Regions from separate parts of the Homo sapiens genome. Here region 1 is linked to region 2. The links come from fine-mapping of genetic effects on gene expression. A gene starts in region 2. The other region holds a variant in brackets. All regions are shown on one strand. Distances are from middle to middle. Region 1 overlaps PPFIA1 (PPFI scaffold protein A1). Region 2 holds the start of PPFIA1 (PPFI scaffold protein A1).

What was found.
Region 1: its variant is fine-mapped to the expression of PPFIA1 in whole blood (INTERVAL, PIP 0.96).

What each region holds. Positions count from the first base shown.
Region 1 is chr11:70,356,481-70,367,718 of GRCh38, reverse strand. PPFIA1 (PPFI scaffold protein A1) reads right to left here. Exons shown (of 28, transcript NM_003626.5): 20 at 5,543-5,624; 21 at 5,231-5,431. CTTN-DT (CTTN divergent transcript) reads left to right here. Exons shown (of 3, transcript NR_186321.1): 3 at 1,001-5,075. Among named protein-coding and RNA genes, the nearest start is that of CTTN-DT, 36 kb to the left of the region's middle. The variant C/T (reference allele first, on the strand shown) is at 5,514.
Region 2 is chr11:70,264,662-70,275,899 of GRCh38, reverse strand. PPFIA1 (PPFI scaffold protein A1) reads right to left here and starts at 5,210. Exons shown (of 28, transcript NM_003626.5): 1 at 4,986-5,210; 2 at 3,464-3,727. The coding sequence starts at 3,727. RefSeq lists silencers at 4,606-5,035, 5,076-5,625.

The sequences.
Region 1 (11,238 bases), 92 kb before region 2:
TTTCCTCATTATATGCTCTGCTCAGACTCCTGAAGTGGCCTATAACATGAACTCCCAGAAGGATCAGGCTCCATCCCAGGGAGACCCACCTCTTCTCCTGGGCTGCCTTAGCAGCCTTCTGGAAAAAAAACATACCAGGTGATGTCAGTCCAGAGAACATCTGAACTAGAAGAGACACCCACTGCACAGTGTTTACTCCCAGCACTGAAACAGCCACAAGTACAACCCAGTCTTATGAACTCCATAAAATGGGAGCTCCATGACGGGGGGACCATGGGTGTCCTGCTCATAGATGCTCCACGCAGCCAGCACTCTTACTAATTTTGTTAAATGAGGTATAAATGGTTTTGACCACGCCTTGATGTCTTCCTCCCCTAGTCTCTCGGCGCAGCTCAAAGTTCTCCCTGGTTTAAGAGCTGGCCACTGTGTACTGCCCTTGGCAGCAGGTGGCAGTCCCATCTGGAAGACAGGAAGGAGGGAAAAGTGATACGAGCTTCCACTAGACTGCATGTCGGCTAGTTCTGGAGTCATCACCACAGCTCAGTCTTGTTTATATTTCCACCGCAAAGAGCAAGGTTAAGCTTATTTAATTTACACTTCCTGTCCCTGACTCAGGCAATTTCATACTGAAGTATTAACCAAATTCTGCTCCTTGGTGGAAAATATACTGAAATTTAAGTAATTATGAAATGTACCCTGTATAATTCATTTATGGTCATTATTGGTCCTATAAAGGGATATCTAACAAGTTAAACAATGAGGTTATTTATCTGGAGGAGAGGCACAGAATGCTTAAATCAAGAGAGAAAAAAGCCCACAGAATCACATTATAGCTACTCTATTTTGTTAAAAAATACAAATAAAAAATAAAAATAAAAAAAGGTGGGGGGACAGTCTAATGAGCTAGATTTTAGGAGTACCAAGAGAAGGAAACAGCTGCTTCAACCATCACCTCGTAATCAGGAAAATTATGATTTAAAATCCTTTTGATTCTTTTCAGATATATAATGATTATTCTGAAGCCCTCAAATACAGTCCATTCGGGAAAGCCTCTAGAACTGCCTGTCCACGCCTCATGGCTGCAATGTGCCACTGAGACATACACCCTGACCACAGAAGGCCAGTGGCGTCGCACGACATTTCGGCAAGCTGTCTGAACATACAGAATGCAAAACAGTTGGGATAGAGTTTTTGGTGAGTTAAAGAATTGAGAAGCTGAAAATTCAAATATACAGTACTCAAGAAGAGGCTTAATTCCTTAGGATTCCATTAGTAAGAAAATCTTTAAGTGGACATAGTATTAGGATAGTATTTAGTAAAAAATCAACACAAAGGCACAGAGGAAAAGTCATTATGCCAATTTTTGTGTTTGGAAATTTATTAGAGCACAATTTCCCTATCAGTATATCTTGTAATAACATTACCCTACCAGGAAATTACATACATAATCTCAGAAGCTGCCTAAGCCACAAGACTTTGTATACAAGATCATATGTTAAACAAAGCAATCTATATTAATTAAAAATAACTGCCATGGCACCATATGAGAAATGTTCAAAATTGTCCATGAGACGTACTCTTTGATGCTATGTTTTGCTTGACCAGTGCTTTCAAATCATTAACAATCCTGTACTCCGAATAAACTAAGATGCTATAAACATCAAAAAAAGTAGATTACACAAGTTTTCATACTCCAATTGCTTTTTGCTGCTGTACATGTAGTGAAGAATATATTAGAGAAAGACTCCAACCTGAGCCCAGCTTCCCTCCTCATCTTCCTGGGGTTACGTGGTTAGGAATGCAAAAGAACATAACTATTAGTATTGGTGAGCTCGGTAATGCAGGCAACGCAACTCTGCAGGGAAGATGCAGCTTCACTGAGTGAAAAAGTTCAGACTATCAAAGCATCATGCAAAACTCATGCAAAACCAACAATTTCAACTTCTCATGCAAGGAGCAGACTCTCTCCGTGCCAAGCATATTCATGGAAGGAGAAAGGGCCACACAGTCAGTCACATGGAGGCTCAACTGAGATCTCTCCAAAAGGAGAGCTAGATTAAAGCTATTCTAAAAGACAGAGTCTACCAACTTGAAGTTCCTGGAAAAAATCTAAAATAAAATACAAATTCTACTTACACATTTCAACTAATAACTAAAGGAAATACTTATCTGGAACGACTGAATGGAAAACAACATTTTGTTTTCAACAAAAAGGCAAAGAACCCAGACGGTCTTAAGTGGAAAACGCGCTGGGAGGAGTGCAGGCTGTGGGGCGTGACTAACCGTTTGCGGCGTGGCTGCGAGCGTTTCCATCTCTTCGTGTGTTAACCAGACATTTCCTGTGGTCTAAGGTGACCCCAGTGCACCAACCACATCCAGGGCAAGGGAAGCAGTGACAAAGAGGAGAGGGGCACACGCATAAGCCACAGGCACAGAGAAGGGGCCGAGGAGGCAAAGTTCGCTCTTCTCACTTTTCAGTTCAGATGCCCGTACAGAATAACCATTCCCTGTTAACACTGGGTCGTCAACACCATCAGGAGAAGAGCACACGATGACGAGAGCTTTAGATGCCATGCTTACCCGAGGTATGTGAAATATCAAGAGAAGAAAACACGTTGTGTACTTCTGGAAACTTTGAGTAATTCTCAAGTAACTATTGATTCAATATATTTAAAGCAGATTAACAACAAAGAACCCAGCATGAAACTCTTGCTTTGGCTATTGGAGGGCTTTCTCGCAGATGTTCCGTGACGGCCTGAAAGGCTGAAGGCAGGCCACAGGGCAGAGGGGGTCACTGCTAAGCAGTGTCGATGGCTCTGTGCAGCCATCAGAACCAGACACGAGACAGACAGTGGCCTGTGTGTCTACTTGAGGGAGATTTTTTCCTTGCATTTTGACATGGTGTGAAGAGTCTGCCTTATGTGAGGTGTTCTCCATCATTACTGAAGACAGTGGATAAACATGGGAGAAACCACTCAGCACCTTCATTTTCAGCAAGGCCACTGTCATGTGAAACAACCAGGGAAGAGCTCAGACACTGCTCCTGAGGCAGGCTGTGGGAAAGGAGCTCTTGGAGCAACAGGGGAGGACAAAGCTTATTGTTCATCACCATAATTTGTTCATTAAGAAGAAAAAAATAAATAAAACAAGTAAAACCCCTCAAAACTTTTTTTGTAAGGTAACTGGGAGCCCTAAATCCAGCGCTGACGTGCTCCTTGGAGAAATGTGTGAGGCTCTTCATTGCAACAAGAATTTGTTTTCTCCTGAGGAGACTAAAAGCAGAGACTGGGAATCCAGCCAGTGTAAAAAGTCTCAACTTTATAAATCTGGAGTTGGCCTGCCCTTATCTCCCAATAACCATTCTTGTTTTTATTAACATAGTTCTTCTTTTTCAAGTAGGATAACCCTTCTTAAGGACTTTGAGGGACTTCCCACATGGAGAGAAACTGTATAAGTACAGCTCATGTTGGATGAACATTTGCAGATTTGTGAACTGCTTGAAATCCTGAGCTCCCAGGGTCTTTAGCTCCCCAAATGGAAAACACCTACAGGCCAAATAAATCAAATACAGTAAAACACTGGTTACAAGGCAACCAGTGATCTCATCTTTATTTTCCCCTTTAGTTTTTATTTTAAAAAATGTCCGCAAACTGGAATGATGGGGAAGGGAGGATTAGAATTCTTTAGGGACCTTTTCCAAGCATGGCTGTGCATGCCTGTAGTCACAGCTACTTGGGAGTCTGAGGCAGGAGGATCGCTTGAGCCCAGGAGTTCCAGACCAGCCTAGGCAACAAAGTGAGACCCATCTCTACAAAAAATACAAAAATTCCTTAGGGATCAGTTTTGACGGTGGGATAACAAGTATCTCTTACTAGTATGTCACCTATATTTCAATGGATGCTTCTGGCTGGGCATGGTGGCTCACACCTGTAATTTCAGCACTCAGGGACTCTGAGGCAGGAGGACTACTGGAGGCCAGGAGTTCCAGACCAGCCTGGTCAACACAGCAAGACCCTGTCTCTAAGAAGTTTTTAGAAATTAGCTGGGTGTGGTGGTGCACACCTGTAGTCCCAACTACTTGGGAGGCTGAGGTGGGAGGATCGCTTGAGCCCAAGAGGTTGAGGCTGCAGTGAGCTACGATTGAGCCACTGCACTCCAGCCTGGGTGACAGAGTAAGACCTTGCCTCCAAAAAATAAAAAACTTAAATAAATAAATAAATGGGTGCTTCTAAGAAGCCTGGAAGAGCCAGTCCTCTGAACTAGACAGAAAAATTTTACTCAAGATGCTACTTACACATGGAATGATACGGATGAATTCACAGACATAACATTAAGTGAAAGAAGCCAGACACAAGAGAGTGAATACTACATGATCTTGTTTATACACATGAAGAACGAAACTAACAGAGCAGTCTATGGCACCAGGAGCCAGGCACTCATCCCTAGGGAAGGGGCAGTGCCTCAGAAGGAGCAGGAGGCCTCCAGAGCCCTGGTCAGATCCCATTTTTCAATGTAGGTGTGGACCACACAGGGGATGCTGACTTTACAGATTCATTTAACTGTTCACTCATACGTGCATTTCTCTATATGTATATTATATTCCAGTAACATTTAAAAATACACTATAATTGGCTTAGCAAATATCTTTATATATAGTACAAATGTTAATTACTCAGTTTGAATCATGAAAACTGAAAAATGAAATTCAAAACATTTAATTATAAAATGTGTCCTTAAAATATTAACTTTTTCCTTCAAGAGGCCCTTAGACTGATTCAATTTTGATAAACTCAGCTGGGTGTGGTGGCTCACGCCTGTAATCCCAGCACATTGGAAGGCTGAGGTGGGAGGACTGCTTGGAGCCCAGGAGTGCAAGACCAGCCTGGGCAACACAGCGAGACCCCCATCTCTACCAATTTTTTTTGGTATTTTCGTATTTCATATTTCCATATTTAAATTTGTAATTGCTTTTCTATGTTTAAAAAAGCTCATATTTTTATACTATGAAGCCATTCTAGCCAATCTTTCATAAAAGCATTTAATAAAGTTTCTTTTGACCATCCAATTCCCCAAAATTAAAAGTTCTAATGTATGTGATGCTAAAATTTTGAATTAGAACTATACTTCATATGCTGTTAAGGAACTGGAGAAGCAATGTAAACAGGGCAGTGATACCTTCAGAGAGGCATTCCCTGTTTCCAAAGAATGCAGGGGTTGTCTCTGAACGTACCGTTCTAGATGTGGGCGGGGCAGACGGGCTGGTCAGCGACATGATCTCCTGGATGGCCAGCCTCAGCTTCAGCCTGTGCAGGGGGTTGCTGATGCCAATCTCACGCTGGATCTCTGTGTCGGACAGGGCCGACATGATGGCCCCGCTTTTCACGTTTGCTCGGCAGGCAGCCACATACCAGGCTGGCATCCCAACCCAGAGCTGGAGGCGGAAAGCGGAAGGAAGGCAGCACAGTGAGGTACAGTCTACAAAGTAGAACAGTAAGTTCACATACTGTAACCCA[C/T]GCAACTGCATGTTAAATGAAGGATGTACCTCTAGCCAGACCACAACCGTTGGCCCGTCCCATTGGGCAAAAGGTAAACCTTGTCTCCGGGCTTCCTCCAGCAATTCATGCCTATAAAGGAGAAGATATTGAAAATTAAAGAATCAGCCAGGCATGGTAGCTCACACCTGTAATCCCAGCTCTCTGGGAGGCCAAGGCAGGAGGACCACTTGAGCCCAGGAGTTCAAGACCAGCCTAGACAACACAGCGAGACCCCAACTCTACAAAAAATTTTAAAAATTTGCAAGGTGTAGTGACACACCCCTGTAGTCCCAGCTACTCGGGAGACTGAGGCAGGAAGACTGCTTGAGGCCAGTAGTTCAAGAGCAGCCTGGGCAATATAATGAGATGCATCTCTACAAAAATTAAAAAAAAAAAAAAAAATCAGCCAGGTATGGTGACGCATGCCTGTAGTCTCAGCTACTTGGGAGGCTGAGGTGGAAGGATTGCCTGAGCCCAGGAGGTCAAGGCTACAGTAGGCCATGACTGTGCCACTGCACTCCAGCCTAGGCAACAGAGTGAGACCCTATCTCTAAAAAAAAAAAAAAATTACAACCAGCAAAAACAAAATCAAGGAACCACTATTATACACATATATAAAATTAGTTAACGAAGTGTTCTGAGCATTTGCAAAAGTCTAGCAGTATACAGTCTGCCCTCTGTATCTGCGGCTTCCACATCCACACAGTCAACCAACTGCAGATCAAAAATATTCAGTGGGAAAAAACAAAAAAAACCAATACAGTACAACAGCTATTTACATAGCACTTACATTCCGTTGGGTATTGTAAAGAACCTAGAGATGATTTGAAGTCTACAGGAGATTATGCCTACGTGATACGGAAATACCATGCCATTTCATACAGGAGACTTAAGCTTCCATGGATTTTGGTATTCAGGAGGGGTCCTGGAACCAATCCCCCATAGACTCTGAGAGACGACTATACATGCTCATCATTTTCCTTTCATCTTCTACAGCTTTAACAGTATCAACACCATCCATTTCACACTAGTTCTGTGCATACTACAAAGAATGCCTGAGTGAGAAAATACTGAATGACTCCCTCTGACTCTCTACAGAATCCCCGTCTCCTTACAGAATCAGAGGTTAACATAATGCTCTCTAACATAGGTATTTCAGAAATAACACTATAAGCTTGGTGAATCTCATCTTATTTCTCAAGTGTTTACCTACAAGGCTTTCAAAGAGGCTAATTGTTTTAAAAAATAAAAAGTCTCAGAGAGAAGGTGTCATTGTAATGGAGAGGACACATACATTTGGTTTGCAAGTACAGATATCCCCAAGTCATTCAAACATCCCTAGGCTGCTTTTAGTCCATTTTTTCTATAATAATTTCATAAGACATATACCATAGAATCTCTTATTTTTAAAAATTTGATATTGGCTCTTCAATACATTTCAATAGCAGCAGACTTTTCTTAGGAGTATGAAGTGGTATCGCAAGATGCGAAATGAAGAGGTTGGGAGGAAGGGCGCGCTGCATGGCGCCAATCACCAGGTGGTGGCTGAAACCCTGCCTTCCGTTCCCTTGGGACAAATGCCACTCAAAGACAGCCAGTAGAGCTTCCTTCACACACCAGTGGGTCTAGGAAGTAGTACAGGTAATTCCTGCCACATCAATCCCAGAAAAAGCTCTGAACGCTAACAATCTGGTTAACTGCTAAGGCTTTGAGCGTCCGGGGCCTGGCCAAGGCGCAGGGAGGATCTGACTGCTGCCAAGTCAGGAGGGTTCCCAACTTACGCTCAGCCTTGGCACTCTGCCAGAGACTTCGTTTTTTAACATGTAATAGATACTCACTGTAAATAAAAATAATTGTCAAAAAATAATTCTTTACTTCTATTACTTGGAGACTGGTGTACACTGTCCTAGACTTCACCAGTACCCTCTTCCTGGCAATGATCACTAGCTTTTATAAAAAGTCTTTTCCAGAATGGAGATGCTTCTGGGTCCAGAGGCAACAGTGGAAACAGTGTTAAGACAGTGGAGGTAGACGGATGTGTCTAAGAGTCACAGGAAGTTAGGGAGAAGGCAGAGGAGACCCCATCTGGGTGGCGGGCCCAGGCCTCGGTGTGTGTCCTGGCTCCCCTCCCCTATCAGACCAGTCCATGATCTGTAAGACCAAACATGGGACCATGCCCCTGGGCTGGCACTCCAGGTGGGAACACCAGAGCCCCTGTTTTCTCTGGGGGGACTGTTCCAATCACGGGAAGAAGGCCCCTGTGTCGAGGGGATGCAGAGTCCAGAGCCTGGAGATGGCTGAAGCCACTCCACCCTGGCCCTCTGGGCCGTTCATTTACATGAACAACTACATTCCTCCTTTATTGCTTGATCTCAGACTTGGCTCTTTCACTTGCTACTGAGAATGCTATAATGCAAAAAGGTCATATAATTTGTGAATAATGTTGTGCATTTTATAATTAAGACATAGCATAACGGTAAAGTTGTCTTTCATAATGAGAAGCTTGTGTGAGTTTTTGCTGATCAAACAGTATGTAAGGGATGGGAGGAAGTACTTTCTCTCAACTATCGAAACTAAATATATTGCCTTACTTTCTTAAGACTGAAGCTTTTCAATCCTCTGGCACCCTGCATAGAGTGAACAAGACTTGCTTTCACAGGTACAGTTGCTACCTGGGTGACAGAGCAGGACCCTCTCCAAAACCCATAAAAAAACACCACCACCACAAGTACAGTTCTGTGACCCAGGCATAGCCCCTCCCATGCTCCATTGCCATGGCACACTGGCAGAGTCCTGAGGAAAGATGTAGGGTCGCCCTGATGAGAAATGGATGGAGTCAGCATTTCTCATGCAAAACTAAAAAGATCCTTGGGCCAGGTGTGGTGGCTCATGCCTGTAATCCCAACACTTTGAGAGGCAGAGGCAGGAAGATCACTTGAGGCCAGGAGTTCAAGACCAGCCTGGTCAACATATTGAGACCTCTGTCTCTACTAAAAATAAAGGTCAAGGCTGCAGTGAGTGGTGAACGCGCCACTGCACTTCAGCCTGGGCAACGGTGCAAGGGCCTTCTTTTATTTTGCAAGGGCAAAAATAAAAAAATAAAAAGATCCTCTCAGGAAGCTCAGCATAGAGCCTGTGGCTGGTGACTGCCCACACTCAGCCCAGCAAATCTCCCGAGTCTGCTTACCCTGAGAAAGCACTACGAAGACAAAAAGGAGAACATGAAAAGGGAACACTTTAAAAGCAAGGTTACTTCAAGAGATGGTGTTTCAAGAACGCTGGGGAATTCTAAAAGTGCTGTGGAGGCACTATGCGCTATCAAAGCTGACGAATGGCTCTAGGACAGCCAGCCCCGACTTGCGGGTTCATTACTACGTATCCCAGGCACCAAACGCGCCCACCATGCTGTGTCTTACAAAACTTGAAATCAGCTTGCCACCAAACTCACCAGATTCCTTAAGTTCTCTGTAAGTGAAAGCATCTGGCTGTGTAAATTTTGCAGTTAAAACACACCTTTGAGTTAAATCAGGGGTTAATAAGAAGAAAATAATTCTGAGAAATATACGTTCGTTCTTAAGATGGCATAAATATTAAACTGTATTCACACAATACTTTTTCTGGAAAACGCAAACTTTTTTTCACATTTATATGTAGACATTTTAGGCCAGGCGTGGTGGCTCACGCCTGTAATCCCAACACTTTGGGAGGCCGAGGTGGACAGATCGCTTCAGGTCAGGAATTCGAAACAAGCCTGGCCAACATGGTGAAACCCCATCTCTACTAAAAATTCAAAAAAATTAGCTGGGCACGGTGGCACACGCTTGTAATTCCAGCTGCTGGGAGGCTGAGGCAGGAGAATCACTTGAACCCAGGAGGCGGAAGTTGCAGTGAGCCAGGATCGTGCCATTGCACTCCAGCCTGGGCGACAGAGTGAGGGACTTCGTCTCAATCAATCAATCAATAAATAAAGCACTTTTTCTAAAATCAGTTTTATCTCAGTTTAAGTGAAAGAAACGAAACTGCCCTCTATAGTCAGACAAATAATCTTTGTACTTGGAAATTTTCCCCACTAAGGAGCTGGTACATTTCAGAACTTCCACATGGATCCCAAGCACAACATAAAGGACAGAGAAGTTTTATTTCACTTCCTCATACTTACTATCATAAAAACAGTAACATTAGCAAAATCTAAGGAATGAAATTTTCCTAGCATGTTTCCAGGAGGCAGAAAGTTTAGCTCTAACATTAAGTTTCACAGGGCCAAATGGCAATTACCCAAGTTATTTGAAAACATTCTTGGCTGGGCGCGGTGGCTCACGCCTGTAATCCCAGCACTTTGGGAGGCTGAGGCGGGCAGATCACGAGGTCAGGAGATCAAGACCATCCTGGCTAACATGGTGAAACCCCGTCTCTACTAAAAATACAAAAAATTAGCCGGGTGTGGTGGCGGGCGCCTGTAAGTCCCAGCTACTCGGGAAGCTGAGGCAGGAGAATGGTGTGAACCCAGGAGGCAGAGCTTGCAGTGAACTGAGATTGCGCCACTGCACTCCAGCGTGGGTGACAGAGCGAGACTCCATCTCAAAAAAAAAAAAAAAAATTCTTACACAGTTCAAGCATAGCAATGTTCAAATCAGATTTTGCTGTTACGTGGTTTCTATAAATTTCCATTTACAGGGAACCAAAAAACTGAGTATTCCTATGGTACTGTTAACATAAAAGCATTTTACCTAAAATATAATCAATACAGCATTTATAAAGGCTTTGAAAAGAAAACTAAAATGAGATAGATTTCACAACAGAAAAAAATCAGCTGGCAACTCTAGGGGCTAAAGGCAAAGGGGCCTCTAGGGGAGAGGGTCCCCATAGGCTCTGGTGCATCTTTGGGCCCCAATTTCCAGATGAGCACTGGTTTCTCAGGGCACTTAAAAGTGGCCAGATGATTTTTCCCACAGTCACAGTCATCATACAGCCCGTCAAGTTTCACCCTGTAAGCCTGGCATTACCATCTTCCACATTGCTCAAGCTCAGCCCTTATCCCATGGACTACACAAACTGCCTATTTTATTGCAGAACTGGGTTTAGTTTTGTTCTACATTTGTTGGCTCACTTGGGCACTGTCTCAGCCTATCTACTTCATCTACAGTCAGCCAACACGCAACTCACCCCGCATCCCAGAAGGCCCAGGGACAGAAACCCGATTCCTCCACGTCCTCACCCTGGGGCATCACAATGCCTGTTCTCCTTTGTTCAAAGCCATCCCAAATATTAGAGCTTATTGTCAGAAGCAGACTTAGTTTAGAATTAAAGCTGAATAAACGGGCTATAAAATCAGGAGTCTATTTGAGATAAAACTACCCGATCTACGGAAGAGAGAAAAATGCAGCATGGCGACTGTTTCGGACAGACCAGCAGTATGAAGAGCAAATCCTGAATGCTGGCAAGCAACAGTCGCTGCACTGGCCACAGCTACAACTTGTTTATGACTTGCTGGTACTGTTTAAAGAACTGTATGCACATTATCCCATTTAATTCTCATAAAAGCCATACAAGGTATGTACTACTAGGATCCCCACTTTACAGATGAGAAAACTGAAGCACAGAGATGCTAGGCCACTTCCTCAACGTCACAAAGTGAACCTGGGCAGGCGCCAGGGCCGACTCCAGTGCTCAGGCAGCTGAGTCCAACTCTCACCCACCCTATCTC
Region 2 (11,238 bases):
GGTGAGAGGATCGCTTGACACCAGGAGTTGGAGACTAGTCTGGGCAACCGAGTGAGTACCCTTTTCTTAAATTACCAGATCTCAAGACAGACTATATCTATGGGAATTTAGACATTGTGCTATTTGTGCAAAGATGACAAAAAGATCAAAGGAGCAGAAGAGAGTCCAGAAACAGACCCACACACTTACAGTCACTGGACTGAGATGACACTGCATGTAGTACACTGGGGAAAGAATAGTCTTTTAAGAAATTATGCAAGGTCAACTAGATATCCATTTAAAAAAAGAAAGAGAGACTCTTGGCCCCATCGCATACCATAAACAAAGTCAATTTCAGATGGAAGATTAAAAAATAGTTTTTAGAAGACAATGTAGAATATCTCATGAACTTGACCAAGCAAATTTCTTAAACAGGACACAAAGAGCATTAAACATTACTGAAAAGATGGATCAACTGGGCTACATTAAAAATTTTACACTTCTATGTATCAAAAGATACAACTGAGAGAGTGAAAAGGCAAACACAAGAGTCTAAAAACAATCTGTCATGCACATATGTACTCAGAATATAGAGAAAACTCCTTCAAATCAGTAAAAAACAAAACAGACAACCCAATCAACAGATGGGCAAAAGATAACCGTTTCACAAAAGACATCCAGGTGGCCAGTGAACACAGGTAGAGATGCTTTACCTCTGCATGTTCCTGGCCATCAGGGAGCAGCAAATTCAGACCATACTGAGCCACCTACCAGCTAACAGCCACCAGAACAGCTAAAATGTAAAGACCCAACAATACCAAGTGCTGAAGAGCATAGGAGCAACTGACTTCTCATACATTGCTGGGGTAGTACAAACTGTCACAACCACCACTTTTGGCACTCTCTACTGAGGCTGAACAAATGCACACACCATCATTTGCATTCCACTTCTTTGTAGAAATCCAACAGAAGTGTACACATATCCTCCGGCCTGGGCAACATGGTAAAACCCCACCTCTACAAAAAATACAAAAATTAGCGGAGGGTGGTGATGCGTGCCTGTATTCCCAGCTACTTGGGAGGCTGAGGCAGGAGAATCGCTTCAACCTGGGAGGTGGAGGCTACAGTGAGCCGAGATCATGCCACTGCACTCCAGCCTGGGCAACAGAGTGAGACCCTATCTCAAAAAAAAAAAAGTTTATAGACATCTGCACCAAAAAACAAACAATATTAGGGGAGCACGTGTAAAAACTGGAAACAACCCCAAATGTCTGTGAGCAGTAGAAAGAATAAGTTCTGTCTGTTCGTGCACGGGATGACCAGAGAGCAGGTGAGAATGAGCAAGCTGCATCTCACAAACATGATGCTGACGACAGAATGAAGAAGCAAAACATACAGATTATTTTACTTCACTTAAACAAAGTCAAGAACAGGCAAAAGTAATCAATGGTGAAAGGTCAAGACCTTGGTTAGCTCTGGGGGACAACTACTGGGAATAGTTAGGAGGGGACTTCTAGGAAGCCTGATAATGTTCCATTTCTTGATCTGGGTGGTGGTATGCAAGTGTGTTAACTTTGTGAAAAGTCCACTGAGATGTATACTTACGATTTGTGAATTTTTCTGCTGTATGCTATAGTTATGTATATTTTTAAGTACACTCTAACTTGCCTCCACAATGTGCCAGGAGCACAAATGCACTTCCTGGACTCATTATCTGGTCACACTACCAGCCACCAAAGATGAACCAGATGCCAGGAAAGGGAAGGGTCCAAAACAAGTTTACTTAATAGTTTCCATTTTTGAAAGGCTGGAATCAGGTGCTCAGGTGGTAACGTGAACCGTTGGCATCATCATGTTATCCACTGAACTAGGCATTCCCAGGCTGCTACACTGAGCAGTGCCAGAAACAAATCACTGAGCAACCATGTCACCAGTGTGTGTGACAACCTCCACAGCCTGCGACTAACTGTACAAAACTCCTGTCACTTCCCTGACATGTCTTGTGTGCCCATTCTTTCCAAAACCTACCTTATTAAGTATATTAGTATTTGATATACACTTCAATACGTGTACCTTAAATTACAAATACAATAAAATCCTGGTAAAACATAAATTGGCTACTTCTTTTAAAATTGTAGTAATAAAATTCAACATAAATAAACTTGGTAATTTATAAGATTGAAATAAGAAAAATCTTAATGATTCTTTAATCCAACAAAAAAGGAACATAGAGCGCTAACGTCAAATTATTGTTGCTAAAAAGGAAACCCACGTTTGGCTTATCAATCTTTCAGGAGAACTGACTACAGCCAAGAAACACATTAAGGCTAGTACTTATTCATTTACTAATTTATCACTGCAGACCCATCATGCGAGTATAAATGTGTGCTTATGCGGGTCTACCTGAATGCACCCCAAAGGCACTTATGATGAGTAACGTGGCGCCTAGACAGCTCTGAAACACATAAATAACCCACTTCTCTCCCACTATGCCCCGTGCCACTCACCTTACACTCTTCTAGTTTTTACTTTCTCCCTTTACCTACCATTAAGTAAATCCTCATTCAACTCCATGAGCAAAGTCTTTCAAACACTGGTCCAAATGTAACATACTCAGAGAAACAATTTCAGTTGTTCTAAGCTTTAAAAATCTTTTTTTTTTTTGAGACAGGCTGGAGAGCAGTGGTGCAATCTTGGCTCACTGCAACCTCCACCTCCCGGGTTCAAGTGATTCTCATGCCTCAGCCTCTGAGTAGCTGGGACTACAGATGCGCGCTACCACGCTCTGCTAATTTTTGTATTTTTGGTAGAGACAGGGTTTTGCCATGTTGGCCAGGCTGGTCTCAAACTCCTGACCTCAGGTGATCCGCCTGCCTCAGCCTCCCAGAGTGCTGGGATTACAGGCATGAGCCACCACACCCGGCCTAAGCTTTAAAATTCTCATCTGCCAAGGAAAAAGTTCCTAAGGAATCAATCTCGAGTCTTCTATCCCCTAAAACAAATGTGACTTACAAAACCTAGATGTTCTGATAAAGGTGGGCTATCAAAATAATTTTTTTTTTCCGTGAAATCAATCCTATTTGTCTATTAAATTACATTAGGAAATTAGAAATACATGAGATAATCCATGGGAAGTACAAGTTTAGCCAGAAAAGGCTTAAGACAACAGAATGGAGGCACCAAATAGATTGGTTGCTTCAGAGCCCTTTTTCAAAAACTCTGGAGAACTTCCTGAACCTAGGCAGTTCCCAAAGATAGGAATGAAAATAATGAGGTATTTTCACATGACTTTAGAGTACAACGATTTGTTCTCCCTAAGAAGTTTAATCCCTAGGAACTTTGTATTTGACTTACAAACACCAGAAACTATCATTTCACAAATCGTTACGGAAAATACTCATCTGAAACATTAACAAAAGATGACACTAATAAAAAAACATTTAGTGGAGAAAAATCTATAGTTTCAGGTTAAAAGCACTCATACCTGTGGAAGTGCCGTGTTGAGCTGTCTCTGCAAGGAATCTCTTTCATGACCAACCTCGTGTAACTTCCCCTGGGTTAAGGCCAGCGTTTCTTGAGTCTCTCTCAGTGTATCAAGAAGGCGGTCCCTTTCTTCTAGCATGGAGACCATCAACTGTTCAAAATGTGAATCTGCATCTGGCTGTGAAGGGGAGCCGGAACCATGGCCTCCACCTCCTCCAGGGGGGCCTTCTGCTTCGCTGATGGTCGGCATCACCTCGCACATCATCTTGAAATGAAAGACCCAGGCTACAGTAATTAAGCTCAGAATACAGGTTCCCACAAATATGCAACTTTACAGGTATCTGTAGCTAAAAAGATGGGCAGTCTCATTATGCTCAGATCTGTTATGCTTTGTGTGTAAATAAGCTGGGAAAACATACACAGGGCAAATATTAAGTGCAAAAATACACAACATGAAGACATTAACACAGACAAAAATCCAGGGAAGGGGTCAAGATCCCAAAGGACTACCCTCACAAAAAAGGGCAAGCCCTGGGGTAGTCTGTTTGCAAAGCTGTACTTGTTTTTGCTGAAAACAAGTGTGCTTCTGTTACCTATTTTTTTTACTTCCCAGTGGGGTGGGGAGGGTGGGGGGGTAGGGGGGGAGAAAGTCAAAACACATGTCACCCAATCATTTTTCAGGAAAAGCACAGAAGGAGCATACAACCAGCAAAACTGACAAGTACAAAATCCATCAGGCATCTTGCAGGAATGTGTGCAGTCAGCTCCCGGGAAGAACTGACGGCTCCCTGAATTCTTGGGCTGGATTTGGTGAGCACTAAAAGGAACCGGATTCGTTAAACGCTGGTAGAAGTGTTTTCCAATGGCTGCAACGGTTGGTCAACCTAACTTACGTAAGTTTACAACCGAAAAAAAAAATCCACAATGGAAATATAGCAGGTCGATACAGCCGGGGGCGGCTAGGAAAGAGGGAAAAGTGAAAGGTGAGATTACGAGAGTCTATTAAGTGTCTGGGATATAAAGACAGCGCCAGGGAAAGGGGAAGTCGCTTCTGAGCCTTTCGGGCAGTACTGGGGGCGCGGTGGACCCCTGAGAGGGGGATGCCCCAGACGGCGCACCTGATGGGGATGGTGACCTCCAGCCTGCTCGAGCCGCACTCCTCCCCTCCTGTATCAGGTGCGGCGGAAGCCCCGAACCCCGGGGGGTGAGGACCGTTGACAACGGAGCCCGCTCGGGCCAGGGCTTTCAGCGGCCACAGGTCCCCGCCCCTCGCCCCAGCGCCCGGGTCACGGGGCGCGGGGCTCGGGGAGGGGCAGCGCGCAGTCCCCGGAGCCGTCCCTTGGGGCGCGGGTGTCCCGCCGGAGCTCTCCCAGCGCGACCCGGCGCCGCGGCCTCGCCCCCACCCGTCCCGGAGCGCACCCTTCCCCGCGGAGACATCTAATCGGCTGCGTGGCCGCCGCGGAGACCGGGACGCGCCGGTGACGCCTGGGCCCCGAGCCTGCCTCAGTGTCCCGCTCCCTTACCTTGCTCGCCGGCGGGAGCGGGCGAGGAGGCTCCGCGGCGGCTCGCGGGCGGCTGCTCGCTCCGGGAGAGCTTGGGAGCCGACGAAAGCAGCCCGCGGCCGGCGTCCGCCTGCCCGCCCCACGCCGCGGCCCCGGGGCCCGCCGCCCCAGTCACTAAGGCCGGCCCGCGGCCGGACACTGGCGGAGCGGAGGAGGAGCGGGCCCGGCTGCGCGGCGCCGGCGTCTACGTGCCCGACGTCGAGCGCGTCGGCGCGAGCGTCAGCACCGCCCCGGGGGCGGGGCCCGAGGAGCACCTTGGCCCGAGTACGCAAGCGCTGTCTCCTCAGGAGGGGGCGGGAGGCGGCCCCGGGGCACTGATTGGCTGAGCGAGACGGGAGCCACGCCCCCCAGGCCCCGCCCGGGTCGCGGGGGAGGGGGCGGTCTCCGGGATGAGCCACAGGTGGGCGCTCAGGTGCTCGCCGGGTCAGCGTCTTCCTCCGGGCGTCCCCAGTTTCCCCCCACGGCTGCAGGGACGCCGGAGGCCTTTGCTGAGTGTCTACCGCGCCTCGAGTTCTGAGCTGGACGCGTCCGGCACGTCAGGTCCCTCCCGAGCTGGAGGCTCTGGATTCGCACCTTGCAGAAGAGCGAACCGAGGCTTCAGTCACCACCGAGGACCCAGACCCCGCCCGCCGCGGCGCCCCTACGGTCTCCCTGGGCCTGATCTGGGTTCAGAAGGACGGAGTTCCCGCCAGGACCCACTTACGGAGCGCTGCCTGCCGCACCTGGGGACGTCCCGGCGCAGCGTCCAGAGTGCAGGCTTTGCCGCTGTGGCTTTCACTCTGCAGCGTGGGCCCGGGCGACTCGGGAAACCCGCCTGGGCTTCAGCGCCTCCGATGTAGGATGGGAAAATGATGCAGACCTACCTGCGAGGCTGCTTTAAGACATGAATCAGATGTGAAGAGCGACTAGTTGAGAGCCTGACGGGCAGCACTGCGCGAGTCTTGGTCATTTCATCTTTTCCGCAAGTTTTTTTTTTTTTCCAGACGTTGTTTCACTCTTGTCACCCAGGCTGGAGTGCAATGGCGCCATCTCGGCTCACTGCAACCTCTGCCTCCCGGGTTCAAGTGATTCTCCTGCCTCAACCTCCCGTGTAGCTGGGATTACAGGCGCACGCCACCAAGTCCAGATAATTTTGTATTTTTAGTAGAGACGGGATTTCTACATGTTGGTCGAGCTGGTCTCGAACTCCTGACCTCAGGTGGTCTGCCCGCCTCAGCCTCCCAAAGTGTTGGGATTACAGGCGTGAGCCACTGCGCCCGGCCTCAGCAAGAATTTTTAAACATCTACTATGGGCCAAGTCTTGTGCTAGATGTTGCAGATACGGAGATGAATAGAGACACCTCTAATTAATTAAAGCGGATGCCCTCCCCACTCCTCCCAGGATTTGACTCGGAGCACAAACTCTTCACAAACCAAAATGTCAGGACACCATCGCCAGTGTCCACTGGCCACTGCTGTTGGTGTGAGGCAGCCAGGAGCCCCTCAGAACTAGTAAGTCTGAGAAGAGGCTGCACGGGGCCTAGGAGAGGGAGAAATGAGCCCGTCCAAGGTGAATTCCTTGATTCTCCATTGTGAGTGCACCAAGAACAAGCACTCCCTCCGACTGACTCTCGCCTACCAGGATCTGGAACACCTTCCATTAATTTATTCGTTCATTCAATAAATATTTATTGACTGACTACACATAGATATGAATATGTACTTTTTGCCCCTAGTTTCTTGCTATTTTAAAAGTGTAAAAATGGCCAGGTGAGGCCGGGTGCGGTGGCTCAAGCCTGTAATCCCAGCACTTTGGGAGACCCAGGTGGGCAGATCACTTGAGGTCAGGAGTTCAAAACCAGCCTGGCCAACATGGTGAAACCCTATCCCTACTAAAAATACAAAAATTAGCCGGGTGTGGTGGCGGGCATCTGTAATCCCAGCTACTCAGGAGGCTGAGGTGGAAGAATAGCTTGAACCTGGGAGGTGGAGGTTGCAATGAGGAGATCATGCCACTGCGCTCCAGGCTGGGAGACAAAGCGAGGCTCTGTCTCAGAAAAAAAAAAAAAAAAAAAACATTGGCCAGGTGCAGTGGCTCACGTCTGTAATCCCAGCACGCTGGGGGGCCAACGTGGGAGGATTGCTTGAGCCTGGGCAATATATCGAGACCCATGTCTATACAAAAAATTAAAAATTAGTCCAGCAAGGTGGGCCACACCTGTAGTCCCAGGTACTTGGGGGATTGAGGTGGGAGGATCGCTTGAGCCTGAGAGGTCGAGGCTGCAGTGAGCTGTGATTGTGCCACTGCATTCCAGCCTGGGTGCCAAAGCGAGACTCTGTCTCAAAAATAATAAAATTGTAAAGTTGATCGCTTAGATGAGGTGTTCTGCAAGTACCCTGTACCTCTCCACACCCCAGCAATTCTGCACAACTCCCAAGTTCCCCTGAACCACTGTCTGAAACCAGCAAATTTCCAGCTCTCCTTAGGGGTACCTGCTTAATGCAGCCAGCTTATGTTTGCACCATGCTCATAAAGTGTCTGTTTTCTAAGAAATCGGCTCAAGGCCGGGCGCAGTGGCTCACGCCTGTAATCCCAGCACTCTGGGAGGCCGAGGTAGGCGGATCACGAGTTCAGGAGATCGAGACCATCCTGGCTAACACAGTGAAACCCTGTCTCTACTAAAAATACAAAAAATTAGCCGGGCGTGGTGGCAGGCGCCTGTAGTCCCAGCTACTCGGGAGGCTGAGGCAGGAGAATGGCGTGAACCCGGGAGACGGAGCTTGCAGCGAGCCGAGATCGCGCCACTGCACTCCAGCCTGGGCAACAAAGCGAGACTCCATCTCAAAAAAAAAAAAAAAAAGAAAAATCGGCTCAAGATCAAAATTTAGTTCGGCAGGGTAGAATGTTCATTCATTTCATGAATATTTGTGCAGCATGTATGAGCCAAGCATGGCTTAGGTCTTGGGAACGCAGAGCTAAGACATCACTTCTAGTATGAGTTCACAGTCTGGAGAAAGAGAAGAAAAACAGACTATTGCAATGTCTGTCCCGTAAACAGTGTGTGACTTGGTGCTGTGGAATCACAGGGAAGGGAGGAACCCGCTCTCCAGCTGGCATCATGGGGGCTTCATAGAGGAGGCAATATCTGAGCTGGGTCTTGAATGATGTGGGATTTTTCCAGCGGAGAAGGGAGACACCCAGTTGGTATAGCTCCAGGAAAATGAGAATTCTGAATTTCATTTTATTTCTTTCTTTTCTTTCTTTTTCCTTCCTTCCTTGCTTCCTTCCTTCCTTCCTTCCTTCCTTCCTCCCTTCCTTCCTTCCTTCCTTCCTTCCTTCCTCTCTCTCTCTCCCTCCCTCCCCTCCCCTTACCCTTCCTTTGTTCTTTTTCTCTCTCTTTTTTTTTTTTTTTTTGAGACAGGGTCTCATGTAGTCACCTAGGCTGGGATATAGTGGTTCGAACACAGTTTACTGCAGCCTCTACCTCCCAGGCCCATCAGTCATCTCACCTCAGCTCCCCAACAAGTAGCTGGGACTACCAGCGCAGACCACCATGCCTGGCTAACTTTTTTGTATTTTTGGTAGAAAAGAGGTTTCACCATGTTGCCCAGGATGGTCTCAAACTCCTGAGCCCAAGCAATCCTCCCACCTCACCCTCCCAAAGTGCTGGAATTACAGGCATGAGCCACCACTCATGGCCCTCATTCATTTTAATTCATTTATTATTTCATTCCCCCAGATCGCAAAATCAGTAAGGGGGAAATCGTAAACAACCTAAATGGCCAAGAAAACAAGATTGGTTAAATTATTGCACTTCCAAATGACAGAAAACTTGGTGACATTCACAGTCATTTTTTTTGAGACTGAATCTTGCCCCGTCGCCCAGGCTGGAGTGCAGTGGGGTGATCTCGGCTCACTGCAGCCTCCGCCTCCTGGGGTTCCAGAGATTCTCCTGCCTCAGCTTCCTGGGTAGCTGGGATTACAGGCACACCTGGCTAATTTTTGTATTTTTAGTAGAGACTGGGTTTCACCATGTTGGACAGGCTGGTTTCGAACTCCTGACCTCAGGTGATCCATCCACCTCAGCCTCCCAAAGTGCTAGGATTACAGGTGTGAGCCACCGCACCTGGCCCACAGTCATATTTTAGATAACTACATATATCATGATTGTGGTGGTAGTTACATTACTATATACGTTTGTCAAATAACTGTACATTAATATGTAGAGTATGCCTTAATTTTTATACATAAACAAAAACTTTTTTAAAAAAGCAAATTCAAACAAGTATACAGAGTGTGAACCCCAATTTGAAAAAGAAAACAGTCTGTGTTTAGATTAAGAATGTATTATGTAAAATTTACCTTGTAGATGAATAACTCTAGAATGTTAAGGTGATACATTTTTAATAAAATGAGTTTTATATGACATGAACTATTCTTGAAATGAGAAATTAAATTTTAAGTTTCAAATTATGAAAGAAAAACATATGTCTACATAAGAAAATATTGTTACTGTAGTCAATTAGTTCTTTATCTTTCCCCACTTCCCGCATATATATATGTATATATTCTTGGAAGGAGATCCATCAGAATGTTCGCGGTGGTTATCTTTAAGTGGGATTGTGGTTGGAAGCTGCATTTCTTTCATTTTGCTAGTCTTTATTTTCTAGATACTTTATCATGAATGTGCGTCATTATTATAATCAATAGGAAAACCTCCAATAAATGTTCATTAAAATTCAATCTGGACAAGTGAGAACCATGGAGAACTGCTTTCAGGAAGCTAACATGACTTTCAGATGGATTTACTCATACCACCCAGCTAAACTACTTCCCAGAAGTATTTATCTGGAAAACATTTCTCAGAGCTTGGGTGACATGCTGTCACCCAAGGCTCTGTCAGGAAAACAGTGAAGATGGAAAATGTTTTCACTCCAGTTCTTCTGTAAAAGACTTGATAAAGAAATTATGATAGAAGGAGTGAGGAGGGAGCAGAGAATTTATCACTACTCCTGGGGTTTCATGTTTGCAAATGTGGCTGCGGTGGAGGTCAGCCAGCCTCTGCTCTCTAGAAGGTGCCTGGATGATGCAGTTAGTTGTCAACCATGAGCATCACTCAGGACACCTCTCCACTCCAGAGATGTAAGCGGCTTAAGAAGGAGGTTCCTGCGGGGATCGTTGTGGTCTGACCTCAATCATAGAGATCAGGATGTGCCCAAATCTACCCAGAACATGTAAAGCCACCTAATGAATGAGTGCTGTGACAACACAGTTCAGGGGGAGGTCTGAGCTGGAGGAGCCCTAGGGCAGTAGATGGTGGAGGATGTGGTCGTTCCTTTAAGAGAAGGGAGCTGAAACCCAGAGATGCAAAACAGATTTCCCTGTAGACACTCAGAGAGTTTGGGGCAGAGCTGGAGGTGGAGCCTTGAGTGAACCCAGGGCTCTCAATTCCCCGTCCTGTCCCCACGTCGTTGTGATCAAGGAGTGGCCTCTTTAAGGAACAACTGAAGAGAAAACATTTTACCAGTTGGTCTGCAGTGCAGCCGAAATAATTCAATTCCCAGGGCCAAGAGCTACCATTTTACTTATTCATCTCATTTCATTCTTTTTTTTTTCCGAGATGAAGTCTCACTCTGTCGCCCAGGATGGAATGCAGTGGCACGATCTCAGCTCACTGCAACCTCTGCCTCCCAGGTTCAAATGATTCTCCTGCCTCAGCCTCCTGAGTAGCTGGGATTACAGGCATGCGCCACCACGCCCAGCTAATTTTTGTATCTTTAGTAGAGACAAGGTTTCACCATATTGGTCAGGCTGCTCTCAAACTCCTGACCTCAGATGATCCACCCACCTCGGCCTCCCAAAGTGCTGGGATTACAGGTGTGAGCCACCGCCCCTGGCCACCATTTCATTCTTAAAATAGTTCTCCAGGGCTGGGAGGCGGAGGTTGCAATGAGCCAAGATGGTGCCACTGCACTCCAGCCTGGGCGACAGAGTGAGACTCCATCTCAAAAAAAAAAAAAAAATAGTTCTCCCCATGGCTATGCCTGTATTCTTTCCATTTTGCAGATGAGAAAACTGAGCCCCTAGTGGCCATAAGCTGGGGAGATCATTGGCCTGAGTGTTCTGGTTTCCATGGCAGTTCGATGCCTCATGGTAAACCGATTAATTAAAAATTGGTCCATTGGCCAGGCGCGGTGGCTCACGCCTGTAATCCTAGCACTTCGGGAGGCTGAG